3 separate regions of the Homo sapiens genome follow, and all the other regions are linked to region 2. Evidence: fine-mapped expression QTL. A gene starts in region 2. Each other region holds a variant in brackets. All regions are shown on one strand. Distances are between the middles of the regions.

Region 1 (11,400 bases), 85 kb after region 2:
TCTGTCCAGCCCCGGAAGGACTTAGGGATGAACGGCTGAAGAAAATACGTATTGGCTGGTTTCCATAATTAGGAATCCTGAGACCGAAAATTAATGAAGACAGCACACTTGACCAAAATGTCACCAGATTGGTTCTCCTGTCTGCATTCTTCTCATCTCTCAGACCACTCACCTTCCTCCCAGCCCTCTTTAACATCGGGAACTAAATGTGCTTTGGACTAGACCTTGCGGCATGACAGTCATCCCTATGGTAGCAAGTGTGGCAGCATCTGACTGCCAATCTCCGACTCCCACCAGAGTGGGGAGTGATTTCTGAACCACAGAACCCATCTTTCTATCTCTCTCTCTCTCTCTCTTTCAGTTCTTAACCTTCTGTTACGTTCCTGGGACAGATCACATGTGTGAACCTTCTTGTCTCTTTGCCCCTACATGAAGGGGGTGTAAGCAGTGGCTAACTGAAGGGGGTGTAAGCAGTGGCTAACACCCTTTCTTGGTCATTTTGCACATCCCTTCAAGCTAGTTAGCTTAACCCCCTGGTCCCGTGCCCCAACTAACACCAATGTAGAGAAAATGTCTTTGTCCATAATCTAAGTGGAAGATGGAAATCTGACTTCCATCTCTGCAGGAAGATGAACTGCCCCCTGCCCCCTTTTTAATAGTATTATGGCCACAGATTGCTGTCCTGTGTGATCTCCACCAAGAACTCTACCTGGAGATCTCCAGGCTGGATGGTGGCTCCAAGGAGGCACAGTCATGGCATAGTGGCTCTAGGGGTGCACACCACAGCTTCCTATGGTAGGTCCCTCCAGATTCGGACCCTATGTGCCTGTGCCTGTGTCTATGCCGGTCAGCAGCATCATCTTCTTCCCTCACAGATGTGTCCCTTTTCCTTCTGCATGCCCCACTGCAGGGAAGTAGAAGGTTGGAGGACCAATGTACAGGAGCAGGGGTGACTATGTGTATCTGATCTAGTGTAATCCCTGGGTGTGGTTCTAGGAAGTTTGTCAACCTTAAACTAATTTACTTCCCTATCACTAATTCACGAGTTCTATTGACTGAACAAAAAGTGCAAAAAAAGAAGGTAGTGAATTCATCAATCATAGAAAAGGGCTATATTAAGCTTACTGTACAGCTCAAACTGATATTTACCTAAGCACCTTCCCCAGACAGCTATAAAAATAACTGTTGCCATCACAAAGAGAAAGAAAACGACCTAACTGTTCTGGTTAAAAGGTGATGAGGGGCCAGGTGTGGTGGCTCGCGACTGTAATTCCAGCACTTTGAGAAGCGGAGATAGGCAGATCACCTGAGGTCAGGAGTTCAAGACCAGCCTAGCCAACAAGGTGAAACCCCCATCTCTACTAAAAATACAAAAATTAATTGGGCGTGTGGCACATGCCTGTTGTCCCAGCTACTTGGGAGACGGAGGCAGAAGAATTGCTTGAACCTGGGAGGCAGAGCTTGCAGTGAGCTGAGATTGCGCCACTGCACTCCAGCCTGGGCAACAGAGTGAGACTCTGTCTCAAAAAAAAAAAAAAAGAAAAGGAAAGAAAAGAAGAAACAAGGTGATGAGGAGAAATCATCTAGAGAAGGGAAAGAGATGGAAACATAAACAAAATGAAACATACTAAATATTCACTACATGATCTGGAGCAGAGGATAGAATCACCTGCACATCACAAACCTGTACTTTCTGAGGAGAAGGATTTACAAACTAACCCATTCCCAAGTGAGGCTGCTTAGCCACATGCAAGATGTAGCGTCATGGGAATTCATCCGGGCAGTCGCCTCCCAGGTCTTGTGAGCGCCACCATCCTGTTCTGGTCCCTCGTGTGCAGTGAGGCACAGATAGATATATGAAATTTCTAGAATAAGATCTGGAAAGAGCCACATCAAATGGTGACAGTGGTTACCTTGGGGAATGGAGGTGGGGAAAATAAGAATAGAGAGAGATAATTAATGGGAACATTAACCTATTACATCTTTTTTTGTTTGCAAACAGAATGTATTCATTTATCACTTGTGTGATTTTTTTAAACACATTAAAGATATTACAAAATCCAGTAGAAGGAGTATGGACGTAAGTTGTACTACTTGGCCTACCTGGGCCCCAGCTCTGTCTATATCTTACTGGTGGGTCTAGCTTTGGGCAAGACACTAAAATTCTTGAGCCTCCATTTCCTCATCTGTAAAATGAAGGCATTAATATGTAACTCACAGGGTTGCTGTATTGATTGAGATTATAATAGCAACTGAAATACAGTTGGTCCTTAATAAATGCTTAAGAAAAGAGAGATCGTGGTTGGACACGGTGGCTCATGCCTGTAATCCCAGCACTTTGCGATGCCGAGGGAGGTGGATCTCCTGAGGTTGGGAGTTCGAGACCAGCCTGACAAACATGGTGAAACCCTGTCTCTACTAACAATACAAAATTAGCTGGGCATGATGGCACATGCCTGTAATCCCAGCTAACCGGGAGGCTGAGGCACGAGAATCACTTGAACCCAGGAGGCAGAGGTTGCAGTGAGCCAAAATCGCGCCATTGCACTCCAGCCTAGGCAACAAGAGCAAAACCTGTCTCCAAAAAAAAAAAAAGAAAGAAAGAAAGAAAGAAAAAGAAAAAGAAAGAAAGGAAAAAAAAGAAAAGAGAGTCCATTACCCAGATCAGAGGTGATGAAGGCTTATAAAGATGGTGGCAAAGAAGATGAAAAAGAAGAGAAAGATGGGAGAGACATTTCAGAGACATGACAGAAATGAAGGCGATTTGCCAACAAAGCCAAGGCTTAGGACCCTGCACCCCCATGCTATCCCAAGCTGACCTTTGTGCCTCTTTTCTCTTTCCAGGCTGCTAGGATGTTGCTGTTGTGTGAGAATATGAAGGGGGATGAGAAAAAAACAATGGAATGGAATGAATTCAAGACCAAATAAAGTCCGTGGTGAGACTTTTAAATATTCATATTCGTCAATGGCAATTTTGTAAAAGAATTTGCAATGCCCCTACTTTCTGTAAATGAGTGGGTACCCCCATCCTAGGGATATCCTCATCCTAATACCTCTCTTTAGGACAGCCTGTCTCTCCCTCTAAGCCATTCTTGGTGGAGATGATACCATCTTCCAGAAGACAAAAATTGTTCTTGGGAAACAAAAATATCTTACTATGTTAATGTGTAAGGCACAGATACACACAGAGTACACACGCAGATAAGCAGTATGTTTGTGGTATTGAATTTTGTGGGGAGGATATCAGAAAAAAAATCTAAAAAGGTTCTTTAGAGAGGTGACAAAAAAAGTCAGGAAACTCTAGTCTATACCCTAATCACCTTTGGAGCAGGGATTCTGAATTCACGTTCACTGTGGAATTCTCCTTTGGGAATGTCTCCATTGTGGAATGTCTCCATTGTGGAATGTCTCCACTGGGAACATTCAATGGGCTGAAATGATAAACAATGTGAGCTGGCTTCCTTGGAAGTCACTTAGGTAGTGAGGTGTTGTGGCCAATCTCGTGAAGTAACCTTATAAGTTACTTCCTCATGAAGTAACCTTAAAAGAGAGCACCTTCTGGAAGCTCCCCTAGGCCTCCCCTCCAGTATCGTCTCATTTGCCTGACTTGAATGAAGTGCCTTTTCCAGAACCAATCACAAGCAAGGGACTGAAATACCCCTGAGACCTGCAGGACCTGGACCTGGAAGTGTTGGCTTCCCCTGAGGCACAGACACCGCCCAGGGGCAGGGGAGTGGCAGGGACCCAAATAAAATGAGGGTTCTATAAGGAAGGAAAAAGGAATGAATAGACTTTGGTCTAGGTGGGGCAGAAAATGGTGTCCATGTAATTACTGACTCAAATGTTCCCAAACAGTTTTGTTAAGAGAAACAGGCTTCTACCTTGTTACCTCCATATTTTATTAGCTTTTGACAGAGCAAACAATTTTTAAAGTTGTGATTTTGGTCACATTTATTTTGGCTAGCTATTAATTTAGACACTCGAACCATAGTTGTATCTTTTCACATCATATGCATTTCACAGTATGTTGTGGTCTCTTATTTAAGCAATGTGAGAGGTGAGAGAGAGAGCACGCGTGTATGTGTCTTAGGATTTTTCTGGGGACAGGAATAGCATGTTAAATAGGGAACATGGATCTGAGAACCTGGGGACCAAGGCTATTATTGCCTTCACTTTACTGAGTTAAGTGGGTGACAGCAGGCAAGTTAAGTGGGTGGCACCCAGTCCTCTGAGCTTTGATTTTCTCACTTCTTATTAAATAAAGAAAAGATTATCAAAGTCTCTGCCATCTCCCAGATTCTATGTCTTGGAATTTGCTTTTTTTTTAAGCTATATTATAGATTATAGAAGTTTGTAGGGTTTTATTTATATTGTTGCTTTGGCTAACTATTTGGAAGCTTATTAGTAATTATTTCTGATATTTTGAACAGAAGCAAGCTCTCAATTATAATATTGTTTTGATGGAAAAATATAATCTATTTAACTATAAAACCTTGTCACATCACAGTATCCAAGAAGAAATATTTGCACCATCAGATGAAGCCTGCTATATTCAGTTTTAAATGAACACATTCAATCTTTTGGCAGGATGGATGGATGGATGGATGGATGGCTGGATGGATGGATGGATGGACACACAGATATCTGAATGAATACATGTTCTTGCTGTTTGATCTTAGGTATAATTCACAGGTGACACTGAGGAAATTAAGTGGCAGGTGTATGTCATTCAGCAATTAGGAACGGTTGGACATTGTCCCTATTCTAATAATAGGCCTATGGATGGTCTGCAGCTTGAGTCCACATCAGCAGCACACTCTATTTGTCAGCTTCCCAAAGGACATTCTGGCATTTTCATTA[G/A]ACTCTGCTTTCTTTCTATTAACACATCTGAACAGAATGTGCCCTTGCAAAGGGAGGCCAGTGACAGCATTTAAGTCTGTAATGTCAAAGAAAATCTCCAGTGGTAGATACACTTCCCTGGTCTCTTTTCCCTTAAGGATTATGAGATTTATATACCTAACGAGTCAGAGTGTGTTTTCTTTCTATGCAGTATCCCATATCCAAATAAATAATGAAATAAATACATAAGCACAAACACCACATGCACCTTTTGCCATTTACTGAGTCAGTAAGATTTTGACATTAGTAAGAGCAGCAATGAATTATGAATGTTTCTAAGAGAAATTTTTAATCCAGGAGGACTTTTTAAAAGGCACTTTTCGATTCTGGCCTAATAGATTAGTATAATCAAATAGCTGTTGTTTAAATTATTTAGTTATTCCCAACTAATATATAAAGCCCAACTGACAAAAACCAATTCTAAAATCCAGGCTGAAAAACTCCACTGTCTACGCTTCCTCATACTCCCCATTCAGTGGAAGATCTACACTGTCAACACCACATTGTGATTGTTGCTTTAGCTGCCACTTCCTGCAGCTGCCATCTGGCTGATTAGAAGTGGGGAAGGCCTATGGTGACAAGCCCTCGGGGCATTTTTCCAACCCTTTAGGAAACAGAAGGAAACGCTTGGGACTCTAATTACAGACTAATAAATAGTTCAAGCAGCCTTAAAAAGAAGAGGTTGTGGGTCCGAAAGGAGTTGATCCCTTCATCTACCATATTCCACACTCTCTCTTAGTGCCCCTTTTTCATTTTAGAAGATTCCCTATTCTTTTCTTTTTTGTCTTTCCTTTCTTTGTTTTTTTTAAGATGGAGTCTCACTCTGTCCCCCAGGCTGGAGTAGAGTGGCACAATTTCAGCTCACTGCAACCTCCACCTCCCAGGTTCAAGCAATTCTCCTGCCTCAGCCTCCTGAGAAGCTGGGATTACAGGCGTGTGCTACCATGCCCGGGTAATTTTTGTATTTTTAGTAGAGATGGGGTTTCACCATGATGGCCAGGAGGGTCTCAAACCCCTGACCTCAGGTGATCTGCCTGCCTCAGCCTCCCAAAGTGCTGGGGTTATAGGCGTGAGCCACTGCACCCGGCCCTTTCTTTCTTTCTTTCTTTTAGTTACAAATCTGAATGGCCAACCCATGGCCCCACTGTTAGAACCTAAGCATTTCTGCTCTGCATCACGCCTATGACCCTACCCAATGATTCATTTATGAGTGTCTATTATGCACCAGGTGTGGAACTAAATGATGGGAATTCAAAGACAAAGTAAAATCTTGCCTTGAAAGTACTTAAAACATAATCGATCCAATACCCTTCACTATCTTTATTTATCTGCATCTCTCTCTCTCTCTCTCTCTCTCTGCCACTGTTTATTTTGGCTCCATGTAGCCCAGAAGTTAAGAATACAGGCTCTGCGCTCAAATGGGACTCGAATCTCAGTTCCACCTTCCATCCCCACACGTCCAGAGTTCTTGTCCTGTTCATATGTTCAGTAACTTACTCATGGTCACACAGCTTTTAAGAGGTGGAACCAGAAAGGGACAGAGCCATGATCCAAAGCCAAGCAGTCTGACTTCTGATTCCATGCACCAAACTACAGTGCTTGTTAAAAACTGGGGAAAATATTTCAATATCTGTATCAGACGAACGGTTAATATTAAAACCTTTTCTGCTTTTCCAAAATACACACATGCTATTTTTCACTTAAAAATGTATAATGTAAAGTTCCTTCCAGGTTCTTACTATACTTTTTTTTTTTTTTAAGATAGTCCCACCCAGGCTGCAGTGCAGCAGCGCAATCTTGGCTCACTGCCACCTTCACCTCCCAGATTCAAGCAATTCTCATGCCTCAGCCTCCCAAGTAGCTGGGATTACAGACATGCACCACCACACCTGGCTAATTTTTGTATTTTTAGTAGAGACAGGTTTTGCCATGTTGGCCAGGCTGGTCTCGAACTCCTGGCCCCAAGTGATCCTCCTGCCTCGGCCTCCCAAAGTGCTGGGATTACAGGTGTGAGCCACTGCACCCAGCCTTAATATACATTTATATAATTATTTTAATAATTTAAAAATCCTATATACATGTAATCCATATAGTCCAGCTATACATATATGTATAGCATACATATACGTATATCTACAAATATATATGTATTATATCATAGTATTTATTATTTATATGTTTATAAATATATATTTATATATTTAACCAATCTCCATTGTTGAGCATTTAGGCTGTTAACAATTTTCACTAGTATAAATCACAGTGGCCATACTCCTGATAAACACAGGTATATCTATGTCTATTTATTTCTTCAGGATAAATACCTACAAGTAAAATGCCAGATCAAAGAATATTCACTTTCTAATACTTTTAAGAGCTGAAGCCCAAGCGCCCTTCGGGAAGCCTCAAGCCAACAGGATGTAAGAGCATCTGCTTCCACCACACCCTTGCCAATGCTGATAAAATTTTGTCAGACTGAGAAGTAGAAGCTTTTCAAATATCTGTTTCTATTGATTAATAGTTGAACATTTCTTTGTTAGGTAATAATCATTTGTAATTCTTTTGCAAATTGCCTTTCCTGTTTTTTTTTCTAATAGAGTTTTGAAATTTTTCTTATCGATTATAATTTTTTCCTTATTATTTATATTAACCTTTTGTCTGATACAGATGTTGAAATATTTTCCCCCAATTTTTAATAAGCTTGGTAATGGAGAATTTTTTTGCCCTATAAAAGTTATATGTGGCTGGGCACAGTGGCTCACACTTGTAATCCTAGCACTTTGGGAGGCTGGGGTGGGCAGATCGCTTGAGCCCAGGAGTTCAAGACCAGCCTCAGCAACATGGTGAAACCCAGTCTACAAAAAATACAAAAATCAGCTGGGCATGGTGGCATGCGTCTGTGGTCCCAGCTACTCCTTCTAGGGAGGCTGAGGTGGGAGTATCACTTAAGCCTGGGAGATGGAGGTTGCAGTGAATCCTGATCCCGCCACTGCACTCCTGCCTGGGTGACAGAGCGAGACCCTGTGTAGCAGGACGAGCCGCAGACAAAACTCCTCTGACACTGGGTTAAAGAAGGAAGGAGCTTTATTTGGCTGGGAACTTCAGCAGACTTGCATCTCAAAAGCCAAGCTCTCCTCACTAAGCAATTCCTGTCCATTTTAAGGGCTTACAACTCTAAGGGGGTCCGTGTGAGAGTGTCCTGATGGATTGAGCAAGCAGGGGGTACTGCATGCACCAGTAATCAGAACAGAACAGAACAGGACAGGGATTTTCACAGTGCTTTTCCATACAATGTCTGGAATCTATAGATAACATAACCGGTTAGGTCAGGGGTCGATCTTTAACTACCAGGCCCAGGGCGCGGCACTGGGCTGTCTGCCTGTGGATTTCATTTCTGCCTTTTAGTTTTTACTTCTTTCTTTGGAGGCGGAAATTGGGCATAAGACAATATGAGGGGTGGTCTCCTCCCTTACCTGTACCCGCCCCCAAAAAAGAAAAAAATGATATGTGTGTGTACACGAGGCAGGATATTTGCCTGACCCCTTTGTGGGACTCGAGACAGGGGTGCATCGTTTACTCAGCCCACAGCTCTCCACTCCTCACAGGAGGGAGTGCACGAGCAAACAAGGCGGGGACTGGAGTGCACGAGGCCTGGAACTGGCCAGCCGCTTCGGCACCAGCAAGAGCAAGCTCTGTGCGGGCCCCATGGCAACATCCAGGTGGGGGTGCCTGTGACACCTGGAGCCCCAGAGGGCGTGTTACAGTGCTCTCTTAGCTCTGCTGTCCTCTGATGGCTTAAGTGTTAACAGCTCAGTGAGCCCTTTGCCTCGTCGTGTGAGACGACTGCCCTCCACCAGCGAGGGCAAAGGGCCAGTGTGACAGCCTTTTATGTCCACACTTGTGGCTCCCAAGCTCTTGTCTGGCATCCAGGAAAAATGAGGTCGCATGAACGAATTGAAGGATGGTAAATGCAGGGGATTTTATTGCCAAGGAAAGTGGCTCTCAGAGGAAATGGGAGCTGAAAAGGGGATGGGGGGTAGGTAATCTTCCCCTGAAGTCCAGCCGTCTCCTCTCAGTGGAAAGGGGAGCTGAAAAGGGGATGGGGGATAGGTAATCTTCCCCTGAAGTCCAGCTGTCTTTGGCCAGATTCTTCTCCAAATTCTTCTCTGAAGCTCAAGCTGTCCCTCTGAAGTCAAGCTGCTTCTCTCCAACTTCCAGCCCTAGACCCCAACGCCCAGCTGCTTCTCCTCTCTGTTGGCTGAGTCTGGAGTCTTCTATGCACAGGATAGGGGCAGAGTGGGCCATAGGTAGTTTAGGGAAAGGCAGCATTCACATGGGAAAACAGGGATAGAAGTTCTCACTTTGGACCACGGGTTTCAGGCTTTTTGGCTTGAGGGTGAGATTTCGTCAGGGACCACACTTTTCTGCCTAGAATTTCTCTGCCCCCGTCCCTATCATGCATATAAATGGCATTCTCGATGCCAAGATTATACCTATGTTCACTTATATTAGGATTGTCGTGCAACCACCAGAAGCATGACTGACATCAATAGAGGGAAATAAGGCATTGTAACCTAACCAGATAGAAATATGACTAAATTGAAGTATTTCCACTTTTTAAATAATAACTTTATTTAATTTTTAATAACTGAAAAGATGGGAAAGAAGCAAAATATCAGACTCATCAAGAAATGATTCCACAGATCCTTATCTGGCAGCTCAGAATAATTGAGTGACTTGGCCAAGGTCATGGTATTAATGGATGAAAGGGATTTGAACCATGACCACCTGGCATCAGAGTCTAAACTCTACATCATTTAACTTCTCTGAAAAACTAAGTCCCTTATTCTATCCCCACACCCTGTAGTTCATCCTTACTCTATTCATGGCTTTTAAGAGCTGAAGCCCAAGCGCTAGAGCCCAGAGCTAAAAGAGCACTGTAACAAGCCCTCTGGGGCTCCAGGTGTCACAGGCACCCCCACCTGGATGCTGCTTAATCGCCTAGATGCTTACTCTGGCCGGAGAAACTTTGACTTCACCTGTGGATGTCAAGCTCCTGCAGGTTCTTAGGAGCGTTCTGGTTGTTGGCAAGATTGCCTTCCTTTGGGCTTTTTGAGTTGCCGGCTTTGGTGGTGAACCAGTGCATTGGCTCCTGACTGCTACTTACTTTTCAGGGCTTAGTGAAAAATGACAATGTGGGGTCCCTTTTGCAAAAACCAAGAGAAAGGATTTTTCTTTCTCCCCCTCACGGTTTCTCTCTTGCCCCTTCCTGGTGCTTGTAATTTGCTATGTAATGCCACACGCCCACCGGCACAATACTGCAAGGTGAGTGCAGATCCTCAGAAGCAAGGGGTTGGCGTGGGGGGCAGGGGGTGAGCATGCGCATGAGACCACCAGGGCCTGCACTGGGGCAGGGGGTGGTTGCAGTGGGGGAACCTGGAACTGGGTGGGTGGATGGTGGGGGAACCCGGGACTGGGTGGTCGGGGGGAGCCTGGGACTGGGTGGGGGGTGGGAGGGGAGCCTGGGGCTGCATGGGTAGGTGGTAGGGGAGTCTGAGAGTGGGTGGGTAGGTGGTGGGGGAGTCTGGGACTGGGTGGGTGGGTGGGAAGGGAGCCTGGGGCTGGGTGGGCGGTGGTGGGGGAGCCTGGGACTGGGTGGGTGGATGGTGGGGGAGAGCCTGGGACTGGGTGGGTGGGTGGGGGGGTGGAAGGGGAGCCTGCAGCCAGGGCCAGGAAAGGCAGGGGGGTGGAAGGGGAGCCTGCAGCCAGGGCCAGGAAAGGCAGGGAGGTGGCGGGAGGCTCCAAGGTCCCAGCTTCTGCTCCATCATCCCATTAGGACTTCACTTAAAAGACACCATGTATTCAAAGATAAATCAGAATTCCAAGACGGTGGCTGCAGACATTGGGAGTGCGGGGCCCCCTTCTGGGCTCAGAGGCTGTGTGCCAGCACTAGTCGCAGGCCTATGCAGCCGGCCCTGCCCCAGCTCCTCTTTCTCCATTGCAGTGCCTCCTCCTTGAGCTCCAGTCGGCCTGCATTGGGCCGTAATTAACTTTTTTCTTCCTCCCCTCCTAACCACCCCAGCCCACAGCCCACAGCCCACTACCCACAACCACTGAGCTGGCTGAGATAAGCACAAACAGCCACAAGGAAAGCCAAGAGGCCCTTCTGTGTGAGGCCGACTAGAGTCCCAGAGTGCATTCCACTTAATTACCGGGAGAAATTCTCTAGAACTGCTTTGGATACTATTCCTAGAACCAATTAGCCCGAACCTTTCATTTACATGCAACTCGAAGATGCAAAAACAAATAACTATGGTACTGTATTTTAACAGCTTAAACAGCTCTGTTTGTTTAGCTAAAACAGATGAATAGCTTTCCAAAAATACACAGAAGAGCACTTCCGGCCTGATGAATGCATAACAATGACAGCTGCGAAGTCACAAAGGAAGTACCATTTAGGTGGCATTTGCTAACAAGTTGTATTTTAGGAGAGAAAGGAAA
Region 2 (10,610 bases):
AGTGAATAAAAAGACAAAACTGAAGAACTCTAATGTGTAGGGGATTGTTACAGCAAGAGGAACCTAGGGAGAAAATCCAGATGCCACTGATTGTTTATTATAAAGGTAGTCTGTGGCTGCCTGGGGATAGGGCTGGGGGTGGGGGTGGATGTCAGTGAAGTTCACAGAGGCCATCACAGGTGTATTCCCCAGGAAGCAGACTCTGAGGTAGACTTTAGTATGTACGGTGTTACTGGGGAGGGCCCTTGTGATAAACACCTGCTGGAGGGAGGAAAAGGAAGCAAGAGTGGATGCAGGTGAGCTGTGAGGAAGGTTCAGCAACAGCCTTGGCCAAAGGAGCTCTGGACTTAGAATGGACAGAATTGCCCCAAGTTGGACCAAGATGACTAGGTCTTCATTGTCCCATATCTGATTAGTCATTGGAACTGAGCCTTGGAAAGGGACCTGACCTTGGGTGAGTCAGTTCCCAGCCACTCAGAGAGTCCTTGAAAAGGCTGACAGCTGGAGGCTTCTAATATTAGCACTCCCAGGAGCTTGGACAACAAATCCGTCTTTGAAGTGGGGTCTGGGTGGTGCATCATAGTGTCTAACACAGAGACCAAGGCCACACTGTTTGGATAGAGTGGAATTGAGAATTAATCCATATATGACACCAGAGCCGTGCAGTTTCCTCAACATTAGGCCATCAGTTGGCCCATAACCCATCCTCCATTTGTTCATTAAAGGATGGAGAGATGAAGAGTCTGTCACTGTTTGAACTCTCACTTGGGGGCCAGATAAATGCTTATTTGGAATTTGGGTAAACTGAAGGGGCCATTTCTGTAGTTATTTGACTCTTCCTCTATTCTTTAGGCATCAAGAAAAGAGTAAGTTTCTTTGCTTTCAGCCATATATATATACCTGTCTATATAAAAATGACCCATCTTTTAAGAAATTGTTTCTCCTTGGTTTCCTCCAGATTAAAGCACACAGAAACTTTCTCTCTTTCTCTCTCTCTCTCTCTCTGTCACACACACACACACACACACAAACACACACACACACAGAGTACCTTCATATTCTGCAATTTCCAAACAATGGAATACCATTCTCCAATAAAATAAACCAGGGTTCCATGGAAAAATAGCTGGTTTTAAGGCTAGCAGAGATAAATTCAAGACGAGGCTGGAGTCTCTTACATTACCAGAAAGTAAGGAAGTGCTCAGGACAAATCAAAACAGGATGGGGGTGTATCAAGGCAACACAGGTGTCAACCTGAAAGAGCTCACAATGGCAAAAGCTGGAACAATTTGAGCAAGAAAATAAAGAATGTAGCATTGGACTATAACCCAAAGTATAAAATAAATACATTTGAGTCCATATTAATTTAAATAAATGATTTAAATAAATCAATAAGTAAATAGGGAGAAGAGAAGGGACAGATCTTCCTTGCAGAAGATTTCCAAATAACATACAAAGTTATTTCCTCCCTTCAGAAGGGGGAGCTTAATTTTGGCCACCACCACTGTCCCTCCCCAAGGGTAGGTTAGACTTAATGACTGTCTTCTAAAATACAGAGTAGGAAAACGTAAAACAATACCTTTACAGTACAGAAACCTGGCAAACACTTCCTTAAGCAAGTGATGAAGGTTAACATCATTATCAATGTCATGTGATGTCATATACTCTTGATATGATATGATTAAAAAAAGCACTTCACCTCTGTGATACTTTTTTAAGAAACCATTAACTTCAGTCTAATCATGAGAAAAAACATCAAACAAACCCAGACTGGGGCACATTCTATAGGACATCTGGCCAATACGCCTCAAGACTGTCAAGGTCATTAAAAAAAAAGGAAAACCTGAGAAACTATCAGACCAAAGACTGAGAAGACATGCCGACTAGATGTAGCATGGTACTCTGGATTGGATCCTGGAACAAAAAGAGAAAAACTAGAGAAATCCAGGCCAGTTGTGGTGGTTCACCTGGGGAGGCTGCAACAGGTGGATCACTTGAGATCAAGAGTTCAAGACCAGCCTAGCCAACATGGTGAAATCCCCCATCTCTACTAAAATACAAAAATTAGCTGAGCATGGTGGTGGGTGCCTGTAATCCCAGCTACTTGGAAGGCTGAGGCAGGAGAATCACATGAACCCTGGAGACAGAGGCTACAGTGAGCAAGAGATGATGCCACTGCACTCCAGCCTAGGTGACAGAGTAAGACGCCATCTCAAAACAAAAAAAAAAAAGAAGAAGAAGAAAAACTAGAGAAATCTAAATAAAATCTAAAGTTTGCTTAACAGTAATGTGCCAATGGAAATGGAAGTTTCTTAGTTTTAAAAATTTACCACGGTGATGCAACTGTGTGAGGAGTGTACAGAAACTCTGCACTACTGCCTTTGAAACTTTTCGGTATACAAGTACAACATTAAAAAACTAAAAAGCTCCTTTTGTTAAAACATGGTATTGATGCAAAATGGACAAACAGACCAAAGAGTAGACATCTAAAAATGACCCAATACATATATCTTCAATAGATTTTCAACAATAATGGCTAAAGCAATTTAATGTGGAACGAAAGTCTTTTTAACAAATAGTACAAAAACAGTAAGACATCTATTTGGAAAAAAAATCTCTACTCTTTTCTCATACCATATACAAAAATTAGCTCAATGTATTGCAGACCTAATTATAAAAGCTAAAACTATAACATTTCTAGGAAAAGCCATCTTTCTTTCAACCTTGGGATACACAAAGACTTCTTAGACGAGACACCACAATCATAACGAAAAAAAGTGAAAAACTTGACTGTATCAATATTAAAAACTTTTGCTCTTGCAGACATCATTGTAAAAATGAAAAGGCAAGTGATGAAGTGGGCAAAAATATTCGCAACGCACATATCTGACAAAGAACTTGTACCCAGAATACATAAAGGACACCTACAACTCAATAATGAAACAACCCAAATGTCTATCAACCGGAGAATGGGCAATCAAATGGAGTATATTCAAATAATGAGACGTCAGGGAAACATGAATATTTTCACGTTTCTGGATGGTTTGTCTCCCTGAGCAAAGAAAATTGGCATGCCATAGACTGTCTCCTCTTCCACAGAATCATTTGCTCCTCACATTGCAAGGGTGTTAGATCTGGAGCCATCTGGTCTCATTCAGAGAGTAATAAAATTTATCTCCCCACCATAGCCAAATGTTTATATTCCAGGGTAGGTACTTTCCCCTTTGCCTTCCTGAGAGAATTAATTTACTTTCCAAGAAATCTGTTGACATTAGGGAGCTAGGGTTTTTCTTCCTCTCTCAGAAGAAGACAGTGGCAACTAAGTGGTGTGTAACCTATATAAACTCAATATTAGATTGTCTTTTTATTTTGTTTTTAATTTGTTTGAAGCAATTCATTACATATGCTGAATATTAGGCCTTTAGCAATTATATTCATGCTGTTTTACAGTTCAGACCTCAAAAACCAGTAAGATATCTATATGGAAAAAAATTAATCTTTACTCTTTCCTCATATACAAAAATTAGCTCAATGTATTGTAGACCTAATTATAAAAGGTAAATCATAACATTTTCTCAAGTGTAAGAGGCATATAAGGAAATTATTAAAAGCACAAACTTTGAAAATAGATGAACCAGCATTCAGTTTCCAGTTTCTGTTGCTTATTAAACGAATGACCTGTCCAAGTCTGTCTCCTTGTTTTGAAACTTGGGGTAATGTAACTAACTCTCAGAATTGTTGTAAGGATTGAAGGAGGTAGTTAGGAAATTTAAATTTCTTAGGTAGGATCTGACTCAAAGAAAGAATTCAGTAACTTCGTATTATTAGTATGTATTATCCTTGGAAACTATTTAGTAATTAAACTAGGATAGAAAAAAATTATTTTTTGCCTGTGGTATTAGTGTTTGGGGTGGGAGGTAAGGAGTAGTGGTTTATGGCCTTTTTCATCGGGAAGCCTGGAAATCCTATACATCAGGTTCCACAAAATTAAGATCTCAATGTGGTAAATCATGGCAAGAGGAGTTGCAAAGTTGAGAAGTAGAAGAAAACCTCAATTCGAAAACATCATTTCAAAAGTCTCTGAAGAACACACTGAAGATTATATTGCCTGGGAGGCTTAGATGGGGAGGAACCAAGACTGCTGCTTCCCAAAGTTAGCAGAGGGGGGTAAGAGGTTAGATTTGAAGATACTAAGGAAACTCACTAAGGTGAGTTCTGGGTCACAGATGCAAACAAAAGAAAAACTGACTCCACTCTTTATTTCAATGCATGGGAAACATCAACTGAATACATGGCAAGTTCTCAGGTCACACTCATCCTGTAGAACCCTAGCCATTCTGAGGACAGAGTGGTGAGTTTGTGAACACGTAAAAGACAAGCCTTAGAGGTAAAATTTTGACTGCCTTCTGACAAGTGCCAAGGGGAACTTGAAGAGGAAAGGAGAGAGGGGACGAGAGGCATGCAGAAAACTGTTTGTTCTCAGACAATTGACAGCCCACTCATGGGGGAAGAAACTCCAAGTCGCAGTTACTCCATCCCCTACCCCGTTCCCACTTTCCAGCTGGAGGAAAAACTTGGTGAAATAATGAAATGTCACTGTTCAAGTTCAGAAGACTTAGGAGATAAGGGAAGGCTTTGTATAGGTCTGCTTTAGCCTCTTGAAGGGTCTGAACGATTCATATTTGAATAGAAATGCATACAAAATTTAGATATCCAAAAATGATTGGCCCCAAACACTTTTGTAGCAAATATTTACCCTATTTAACCCACAAGACTTAAGATGATAATGATGAAAGTAAACTAATACAATTTATAATCAAAAAGTAAGAACAACAGCAACTCAAGATAATATTGATAATGTACTGATCACACAGAGTCCTTCCTAAAACGTTCTGGGATTACAATGGAATCAATAAGAGTCCAGTTGGGAAAACAGAAACCACACTAGTTATTTCAACAGAAAGAATTTGCTGTAAGGAATTGGTTAAACAGATGTTGGAGTACTAAAAAAGTAAAGCAGGAATACTGAGATTGAAAGAGACAGAGTGACTACTAGAAGCAACTACCACCGTCAGGGTTAAAGGAACACAGGGCAGACGTGGGGTTCAGATCCCAGAAGCGAAGCCTCCAGGAAACTGGGACTCAGACCTCTGAGAATGGGGCATAGCCTACTCAGTGCTGGTATTTCTCAGGAGATGCAGTGAAGCTGATTCTGGGAGTACAGGAAGAAGCTGGGAACTAGAAACAATTGCTCCTAGAACTAGCTGTCCCTGCCAGGGTAAAGAGGCACTGTGGGGCCTTAGTGACAAGAACAGCAAACAAATAGGAAGCAAGTCCCTTCTTTCCTCATCCAGCTTTCAGGATTCCTTCAGGGCCCCTTTTGGTGGAAAGGAAAAGAACCAGCTAACAAACAAGAAAAGTGGTTTGAAGAGGCCTCACGTCAGCACCACGAAGCTAACATCCCAGCCTAAGGGGCCCTCTGACCCAGATTCCTCCTCTGTTTCCAAGTCTTTCAGGAAGGAAAAAGTAGCATACTTAGGCGACTCAGAAAATCCTGCCCCATCTTCTATCTCCTTACTCCCTCCTCACCAAAAAAGATCTTTTTTAATACTGAAGACCCCCTTTAAAAAGAAAAAGAAAAAGAAAAAGAAAACAATAGTTGCTCTAATTTGAGTGTCGTTTCCCTTTATTGGAGCATTTGAAAACAGACATTTAAGGGCAAAAGAGATGGAACACATCTGAGGTAAATCGTGTATCTATCTTCAGGCTGTGCCCAACCTTTAGAACCACCTAGAAAGGTACAAAGCTGAGAGCCTCTCTCAGATTTTTCATATAGTATTTCAAGACTCACCTCTTAATTGCACCCTTCCCCCCTCCCATTATAAAGAGCATGGAACCTAGGACCCACCGCCTTGTGTGGAAGTCCACACACCACTGGTCACAGGCCACTCACAGGTTTGGGGGACTTCATGATGATTCCTAGACTTTCTGAGTTTCCCTTGCCTCATCTGAAAAAAGGGCCAGGACCTAACTGCAGGTTGTGAGAGTTGAATGAAATCAAATAACAACTTTTCAGTCAGTGACAGACTGCATATACAAAGGTGGTCTCATACGATTATAATAGAGCTGAAAAAATTCCTATTGTCTCTAAAGACCTTCCAGGAGGACAGGATGTGAGGTGGCATCAGTGGCACTGACAATCCTGACCCTGTGCAGGCCTAGGCTAATGTGTGTGGTTGTGCCTTAGTTTATAACAAAAAAGTTTAAAAAGTAAAGAAAAAATAAAGAAAAAGAAAAATTTAAAAATAGAAAAAGCTTATAGAAAGAATACAAAGAAAAAATATTTTCATACTGCTGCACAATGTGTTTGTGTTTTAAGTCAAACGTTATTACAAGTCAAAAAGTTTAGGTCGGGTGTCGTGGTTCACGCCTGTAATCCCAGCACTTTGGGAGGCCAAGGAGGGTAGATCACCGGAGGTCAGGAGCTCGAGACCGGCCTGGCCAACATGGCGAAACCCAGTCTGTACTAAAAATACAAACAAATTAGCCGGGCGTGGGGGCACACACATGTAATCCCAGCTACTCTGGAGGGTGAGACAGGACAATCATCAAAACCGGAAGGCAGAGGTTGCAGTGAGCCGAGATCGCACCACTGCACTCCAGCCTGGGCTACAGAGCAATGCTCCATCTCAAAAATAAATAAATAAATAAAGTTTAAAAGATTTAAAAGTAGAAAGTAAAAAATCATAGTAAGCTAAGGTTAATTTATTATTATTGAAGAAATAATTTTTTAATAAATTTAGCATAGCCTAAGTGTAATACAGTGTTTATACAGCCTATAGTAGTACACAGTGATGTCCTAGGCCTTCACATTGACTCACCACTCACAGACTCAGCCAGAGCGACTTCCAGTCCTGCAAGCTCCATTCATGGAAAGTGCCCTATACAGGTGTACCATTTTTAAAATCTTTCATACTGTACTTTTGCTGTACCTTTTCTACGTTCAGACATGTTTAGATACACAAATATTTACCATTGTGTTACAATTGCTTGCAGTATTCAGTATGGTCACTTGCCGTACAGGTTTGTAGCCTAGGAGCAAACAACAGCCTGTACCATATAGCGTAGGCGTGTAAGAGGCTATACCATATAGGTGTGAGTACACTCTAAGATGTTCACACAAGAAACTCGCCTAAGACATTTCTCAGGAGGTAATCCTGTCATCTTAAATGATGCATGACTGTAAGATCTACGGCTGAGTGCCTAACTGTATATCGAGAAATAACGCTCTATTTCATCCGTCTTCCGATATTGAACTTTAACTGACCATCAGACCGGCCTGAATACCAGAATCTCTTTGCAATGCACTCGCCTCGCTCATTACCAGAAGGAGGTTTTACCTGCCTAGTGACCTGGTTGGTCTGGGCATGAACCCCGAGAGGTGGAAACTCTCAGACTCTCAGGACTGACAGCCGAGTGGCTGGGGACTATAAATCCGCGAGAACTGCCCTCGCGCTGCCATCCAGCTGGGTAGCCGGGGGAGCGCGCGTGGGGGCTCCGCGAGTCGCTCGCCCTTGGTTTCTGGGGAAGCCTGGGGGACGCGGCTGTGGCGGAGGCGCCCTGGGACTCAGGTCGCCTGGAGCGTGGCACGCAGAGCCCCAGGCGCGGAGCTGAGGCCGCGCGGCCGCGCTTGGCCCCAGCGGGCGTGGGACTGAGCAGTCTGCTGCCCCCCGACATGTGACCCAGCCCCGCCGCCCATGCGGGCTCCCGGCCGCCCGGCCCTGCGGCCGCTGCCGCTGCCGCCGCTGCTGCTGTTGCTCCTGGCGGCGCCTTGGGGACGGGCAGGTAGGTGGGTCGCGCCGCCAGGTGCGGGTCGGGGATGCCTCCAGGCCGGGGCCCCGCCAGGCAGAGCTCGAGGCCGAGCTCTCCCCTCCTGCCCGCCGGCCAGGTTTCGCTTTCGGGCGGGCAGAGGACGAGGTGCGCGGAGGCCGGAGCTTCCAGCCCCGGGGCTGCAGGGAGCCCGGGGGACACTCGCCGTCGCCTCGCGCACCTTGGCTCGGGGTCAAGTTTGCAGGACTCCGCGCTCCGCACTTTCGGTCTCGAGAATTGAGGTGGGGTGGGGGGAGTTCGGTGGGGGGTGCGCTCTGCGCGGTGCCCACAGCCTATGACTTGCGGTCGGGGACGGTTACCATGCGGGGCCCCTCGCCGGCCAGTCCCAGGTTCCCGCCACCACCGCCGCGGCCGCGCGGAGGGGCCCCTGTGGATGCCGCGTCTCGGCCGCCGGGCCCCGCAGTCCTGCAAGCCGCGCGTCGCGAGATCCGCGCTTTAAAAGCCAAACTCCCCGAAAGGGTCAGCCCCGAAGGAACATGATCCAGAAAGACGCAGCTTCTTAAAGTAAGCTCCCCCTGTCCTGGGTACGCCGTTGTTTCCTTTGCAGTTATGACCATGTACAGATAGTGCTCTTTGATTTTTCAGAAATAACAAAACTTTTAACTCGTTTACGACATAAGGTAACTGAAGAGCTCTTTCGTTTTGTTTGGTTTTTAAGTTTAAATTCTCTACCAATTGGAATCCAGTAAACCAGAATGATTCATTAACCTGATTGCTTTTTTTCCCTGTATTTCTCGTACATGAGAAAAAGATTTTTTAAAAAAACAAAAAAGATATCCGGGATCCCTTTTTAAAAAAATTATTTTAAAAAACAACAACAAAGCTTCTCCAAATACTGTGCTTTGTAGACACTTCGTTCAGGCCCCGCTGTCTTTTAACCCAGAACTGAACAGTAAGAGTGAATGCAGGAAGAAAGTTGACGGTGAATCTGGAGTCCTTGGTAGTTAAAGAAAAAGTTAAATTCAATATAGTTACAACAATAAGAAAAGTATGCACACAGATCTTGGAGAGATTTTGAACGATAGCTATTATACATAAAATATTTTATCTTTTAAATTTATCAGAAATTATAGTTATTTTTCCTTTTAATATTCCCGGGTAGACTGAATGGGAAGAAACGACTGACGTGCAAATATTGAGCCTTCAACTAACAGACAGAAATTTGTTTTTATTTTTAATCGAAGAGAGAAGCTGGGCGCTGTGGCTCACACCTGTAATCCTAACACTTTGAGAGACAGAGACATAGGCAGGAGGATGGCTTGAGGTCAGGAGTTTCAGACCAGCCTGGGCAACATACGGAGACCCCTGTCTATACTAAACATTAAAAAAATAAAAATAAAAAACTAGCCAGACGTGGTGGCAAAAACCTGTAGTCCTAGCTACTCCGTGTGCCCAGGAGTTCCAGACTGCAGTGAGTTATGATCACGCCACTGCACTCCAGTCTGGCCAAGGGTGAGACCCTGTCTTTGGGGAAAAAACCAAAAACAAAGAAAGTGAGAGAGAGAAATAAAATTGTTGGGTGCTGACATTACCAGGTAGTAATGTTCTTGACTTCAAAATAAAATTTACAAAACAAAACAGTAAGAAATCTTTTCTGACCCAAGAGACCTTGATACTACTTTCTTAGCTCTTCTTAGGGTATTCCCGTCCTCTCCTGGGTCTTTGGGCTAAGGTCTAAGGACTGCTGGGAAGACCACCTTAGAAGATGTATGTAGTTACCTGGATACTACCTGCTCGTAATTGAAGGATTATCTACAATGTCTTCTGTACAACGTGGGCTTACTAAGGTTCTATGACTTTGCCACTCTCAGGTAGATTAATGCTTTAATGCTCTCATTTTTTAAACTTCTAAAAATTTTCGTCTCACAGCTCAGTGCCATATCAGGCTGTAAAATACCAAAACATCCAAAGAGGAAAAAAAAAACTCAGCATGTCATGAACCTTGTAGGGAAATCTTGGTATTTCATTTCAGATAAAGTTGTAATGGAATTCAAAATGTCTATGCGGCTCCCTCAAGGCAGGTGCAACACGCTGTCATTCACTCTTGGACCCCTCCAGGGACAGAATTTCACAGTGAAGTTTATCCTTATGGCTTATCAAACTCCGCCCTATTGGCCATTCCCATATCCTGTTCTCAGGAACGATAAAGAACCATGATTAGCATAATATAAACAGGCATTTAAAGTCACTAAGATAGAATGGGAGATGGTGACTTCTCAGGTCATCTGCCTCCTCTGCTCAAAGCCCTTCAGAGGCTTCTACTGTTCCTGGAATCATTCTCAGTTCTACAAGATCCTGTGTGGCCAACTCCTGCCTGTCTCTCCAGCCTTATCTCACACCACCTAATTCCTGCTATCCTGGCCTTTTTCTACTTCCCAGACAAGCCAAAGTGTTTCCCATCTCACTCATACTGGCAGTTCCTCTGGAAGTTCCTACTGGAGATTCATACTGGCAGCCCCTCTGCTAGAATGCTGCTGTGCCACTCTATTCCCAGCTAACTCCTGCTCAGACTTTGGCCTCTCCTGCCAATGTGCTTCCCTCAAGAAGGTCTTCCCTAGGGAGTTCAACAATGAAAACACATGGACACAGGGAGGGGAACATCACACACCAGAGCCTGTCGGGGGGTGGGGGCTAGGGGAGGGATAGCGTTAGGAGAAATACCTAATGTAGATGACAGATTGATGAGTGCAACAAACCACCATGGCACATGTATACCTATG
Region 3 (5,000 bases), 35 kb after region 2:
GCCATTTTAGCAAAAGCAGAACTCAAGTTGAGAGAAAGGGAGAATTTCAATCTGGCAACACTCAACAGAATATATCTTGTGAGGAAAAGACAAGTATAACCTAAGACTCTTACGAAGTTCAGTAGACTGGTGTTTGGAAGCAGGTGGGAACTCAGGAGATCACTTTTCTGAGATCTTCCTGGAGGATGAGGTGGAGCACTAACTAAAGACGACCTCCAGCTAACAGAGAGATAAAGACAAACCCAAAAGAAGAACTTAGTGATGACCAAAAGACTGGTAGCATGCATGGAATTCATCTCAGTGTAGAACTAAGACTAAATAGTGATGGAAATGTAATTATAGAAGTTTCTTAGAAATAATTTGAATTTAAACAATAATATAAGGTGGAAAAGGGGGGGGGAACTATAAGTGTACTGATTTTCATAGCCAGAAGCCATTAAATGTCATCTAAAATGACAATATTTTATTATTTTAATAATTAACCTCTCAATATTTTTCACAAACCATTTTCTTAATTTAAAAGCTCTTTTAGGAACAAATATGTCTTGTGGTGACAAACATTTGCACTTCTGTAGTTTCTTTAATCTCACTTCAATTTCTTTTTTCTATCAAAGTTCAAGGCACATTGAATTGACTACTTTTATTAAAACCATATGTATGGTATAATCTAATTTTTGTCCATCTATTCTGCTATCATATCGTCCTTCTGTTTATACAGAAGCACAATGAGATATCCAGAATCATACACACCAAATGTTCCAGGGTAATGGGTTTTAGGATGATTTGTTTCTCTTTTGATTATACTTTCTGAATTGTTTGATTGTTTGAATTAAAAAAATTTACCATATTTTCAAAAAAGAATAAAGTCAGTTTTGTCTTTGAAAAAAAAATTCAGATAACTAAAACCAGTGAAAGACTTCAGCAGCGACTCACAGTGACCTCATTTATCTAGAACCTCATTCTCATTTCCAAGGAGTTTCTCAGGAGCCAGTGTTAGAGGAAAGAAATCACTTTGCAGAGAAAAGGCTCGTGAGCATGTCCTTGCCTCCTTATCCATTAGGTGGAGCAAAGAGCTTGCTCTGTCCTTTATGTTTTATGTGATCCAGAAAGGGATTTTTAAAAAATAGACAAGAGTCATCACTGCTTCGTGTGAGCAGATCACTCAGATTGTGCAACTTTTAAAAATATGTTTTTAAAAAGAAGCTTGCGATGTTGGAGTTCTTACATGCCTGTGCATGTGAAAGAGGGACAGGAATATAAGACAATGTATTTCACTGCCAGAGGGCTCCAAGCTCAGCTCTGGAGTCAGACAGTCCCCAGTTCATAGCCAGGCTATGAACCTAGCTGGGAAGGTTACAGATTATACTTTTATACTTTTGAGTGAAGTTTGTTTCCAAGGTGAAAATTTTCCAAAAGTTTAAATTCTATCCACCAAAACAATTAATGCAAAAAAATAGAATGTAGCACTAAAAACAGAAGTTTTGGCGTCAGGGAAGAGTGGTTCAAATCCCAGGAATGCTGTTTACTAGTCATGTGAATTTGAGTGGATCCCTTAATCTCCCTGAGCCTCAGCTGTCTCATCTGTAAAATGGGATGAAAATAAGAGTACCTACCCCCTAGGGTTGTTATGATAATTAGTGAGATAAAGCTTGTAAATCAGAGACCACTGAGGGCCCCATATGGCTGTTTGCCATGCGTGAGTGTCATTACTGGAATATTTGCTGAGTGATTCTGGTCATCATTCATTTATTTTGTTGAAAATCTTGTAAAGAGCCTTTTCTCCTGCATCAGCATCTGTCATGGGAAGCTGCCTTGCCTTTGGCAGAGTGAGGAAGTTTGAGGAGGGAGGGGCCACATAGGCAATGGCAATAGTCTTCAAGCCACAATTCA[G/A]GACTCTTTGATGACTCATGAAATGAATGTTGAGGGATATTATTTTTAATGGAAAGGAATGGAATGGTGTGGAATGGACTGGAATGAAAAATAACTGAATGCAAGGCATGTGGTAAAGTTTAAATATTTTCTTGTACAATTTTTGTTTTAATATGTTAGATAGTTTTATATTTTGTGAGCTGAATCACAATATAAAATGTATTTTTCTTTTCCCTGTGGATCATGGTCAAAAAAAAAAATTGAAAGCCCTTAAGTAACAGTGATCACTTGGATGGAGAAGTTGATCAGTAAGATCTGACTATATTTCTGATGTCTTTTGGTAGGTATGGTACTTAGGAAATGGGAAACATTTACTTTCAGAAATCTGTTGCCATATTCTGAAAAGAGAAAATATCCTTAAGCTTTGGCAATACATGGACATATCCTCTTTCTCAAGACACACTCTTCCCTTGACCTTTATGATATTTTTTTCTCATCCCTCTTTAGTTGCTATTTCCAGGTCTTCTTTCTATCCAACCTTTAAATCTTGACGCTCCTGAAATTTTATCCTAGACTTTATTTTGTTTCCATGGATCATTCATTCATGCTTGTGCCATCAATGAGCAGTTTGATGACATTGACTCCAAAATCCCTACCTCCCACACACATGTCTCTCCTGAGACCCATTGCCCACTGGGCATCTGCAGTGGGATATCTCTAACATACTCAGGCTCAAGGCATCAAAAGTGAACATCTTATCTTCCCCTCCTGCTCTGCCTCCCCATCCATTTCCCAAATCTGTTCTGTCTCAGTGCTCTTTTTCGTAGTAAATATCACCACCATTCCACCCATCTGCCCCAGACAGAAAGAGACAGCATCCTTAACACCTTCATTTCCCTAATCTGTTACATGTTTTCTATCACCAAGTCCTATCTCCTAATATTTCTTGCTTTTGTCCTGTCCTTATTTATCCTACTGCCCCTGTCCTTGTCCAAGCGACCTACATCTTCCCCTGGACCACTGTAGTGTCCTCTCAGCTGTTCCCTAGGCTGCCACTTGTAACCCATCACCTTTCCCAAACTGCCTCCCCTGTCCCTTTCACTGGCTTATCACATGTTACCTGAACTCTACACTTCAGTCTCTCCCACCTGAAAAGGGCTGAAAATATTGCCACCTCCCTATTTGCTATGGGGGTTGTGTTTTTAATAAAGAAAAGGAAAATCAGTATGACCAATCTAGTCAATATTATCATCATCACTATAATTATCAAAAATGCAGATTTCTGTATGCACTCCAGCCTCGTGTATTTTCCCTAGAATCATTGATACTTAGATTTTTATATGCTATGAGAACGTCAAAGTAATTTTTCTTCCAAGAAAAAAATGACAAACTGTTCTTCAAACAATCCGTCAAACTGACCTCGTGTACATAGTAGACTAAAAACCTACACAGATAATTACTAGAAGAATTGATCACACAATATGTAAAAATTTCACTGTAGCCAAAGAATAACAGTAAAATATATGCTTCCAAAATATACTGTCCACATTATAATTCACAGAAAGAAAGGTGATTACAGAAACTCTGACTCATGTTCCTGACAGCTGATGAAAAAAATTGCCCACCGCAAAAGTGGATTCTTTTTTATCTCAATGACAGGCACTTTTGTTTTTCTGAAGAGAAGGTCGTCAGTTCCATTCAGTTTTATAAAATGACTGAGTTTTTTTATTGTAAAGTATAGAGGGCACCTCATTATTAATTCAGCTTCTTTCTTAGCAGATATGGGCAAAAGAAATGGCTGAATAAATCAGAATGCAGAAATATCAATAGAACCTACTGTGATCTTTCTGCTGAAACTTCTGACTACGAACACCAGTATTATGCCAAAGTTAAGGCCATTTGGGGAACAAAGTGTTCCAAATGGGCTGAAAGTGGACGGTTCTATCCTTTTTTAGAAAGTAAGTAATGCCATTATTGCAATGGTCAGTTAAACATGTATTCATATCAGGTTTAACAGTCTCAGCCTCACAGACAGCCTTGCCCAGAGGAAGGTACTCTGCTTGGCTGTATTCTGGACCAGTGGGTTGAGTGAGCAGGACAAAGTCCTTAACCTTGCTGGCTCTGAGTCTCACCTTGATTGACTGATTGATTGATTGACTGTAGAGACAGGGCCTCATTATGTTGCCAGGCTGGTCTCAAACTCCTGGGCTCATGCTATCTTCCCACCTCAGCTTCTCAAAGTGTTAGGGTTACAGGCATAAGCCACCGCACCCAGCCTGAGTCTCATCTTTAGAGTGAAAGGTTTAACCAAGTGGTCTCTAAGATCTCTCCCAGATCCAAAATTGATACTAGATGACAATGATATCAAATTTTGACTTTGTCTTACTACTTTGTGGAAGCTATGTAATTTGAGGAACAAAATGACTTTATTTAATGTGGGTTTATGGACTATTAATGTCTCCACAAGATTGATTAAACATTGTCCTGATTATCCACTATGCTTCTTCTTGTATGAACTTGGTAGTGTGATGATGTAATTTCCAAGTGTAACCCAGAATTAAGGCAACTTCTTCCTGGTATTTACTTTTAAAATGTTGCCATCCCCTGAGCTATGGCTGACTCAGTCATGAAGGACCCACTCAGGGCTGCCATAATGAGCTCTGCAAGTGCTCCATAAGTCCAGGAGCCCTTCCGGATCAGAGGTCAGAAAACTACCCTTGGGACAAATCCAACAACACCCTTTCTGTTTTTCTACAAGCCAAGAGTTAAGAATGGTATTTATATTTTTAAATAGTTTCTAAAAATCCAAGGAATATTTTGTGACATTGGAAAAGTAAAGGAAATTGAAATGTTGATGTCTATTCATAAATAAAGTTTTATTGGGGCACAAGCCACACTCATTTGTTTACACAGTTACCTTAGATTGCTTTCGCAATACAGCAAGAGTGGAGTAGTGCAACAAAGATCATATGGCCTGCGATGCCTGAAATATTTACTGTCCAGACCTTTAGGATAAAAGTCGCCTGGTCTCTGTTCTAGATCATTCTAATCACATCTCTGATTTTCCACTTATCAAGTCATGTTGTTGTCATTTATCACCAACTTTTCAAGTCACAGAAATCTTACAAACA

Evidence for each region.
Region 1: its variant is fine-mapped to the expression of IL20RA in left ventricle (GTEx, PIP above 0.99). The same link has a PIP of 0.9 or more in atrial appendage.
Region 3: its variant is fine-mapped to the expression of IL20RA in esophagus mucosa (GTEx, PIP 0.98).

The regions. Positions count from the first base shown.
Region 1 is chr6:136,956,901-136,968,300 of GRCh38, reverse strand. No RefSeq gene overlaps it. Among named protein-coding and RNA genes, the nearest start is that of NHEG1, 31 kb to the left of the region's middle. RefSeq lists enhancers at 9,472-10,038, 11,175-11,400 and a silencer at 10,716-11,010. The variant G/A (reference allele first, on the strand shown) is at 4,861.
Region 2 is chr6:137,041,876-137,052,485 of GRCh38, reverse strand. It overlaps IL20RA (interleukin 20 receptor subunit alpha), which reads left to right and starts at 7,521. Exons shown (of 7, transcript NM_014432.4): 1 at 7,521-7,845. The coding sequence starts at 7,758. RefSeq lists silencers at 7,709-7,768, 7,799-7,908, 7,979-8,028.
Region 3 is chr6:137,010,101-137,015,100 of GRCh38, reverse strand. It overlaps IL20RA (interleukin 20 receptor subunit alpha), which reads left to right. Exons shown (of 7, transcript NM_014432.4): 3 at 3,649-3,827. Among named protein-coding and RNA genes, the nearest start is that of NHEG1, 19 kb to the right of the region's middle. The variant G/A (reference allele first, on the strand shown) is at 1,891.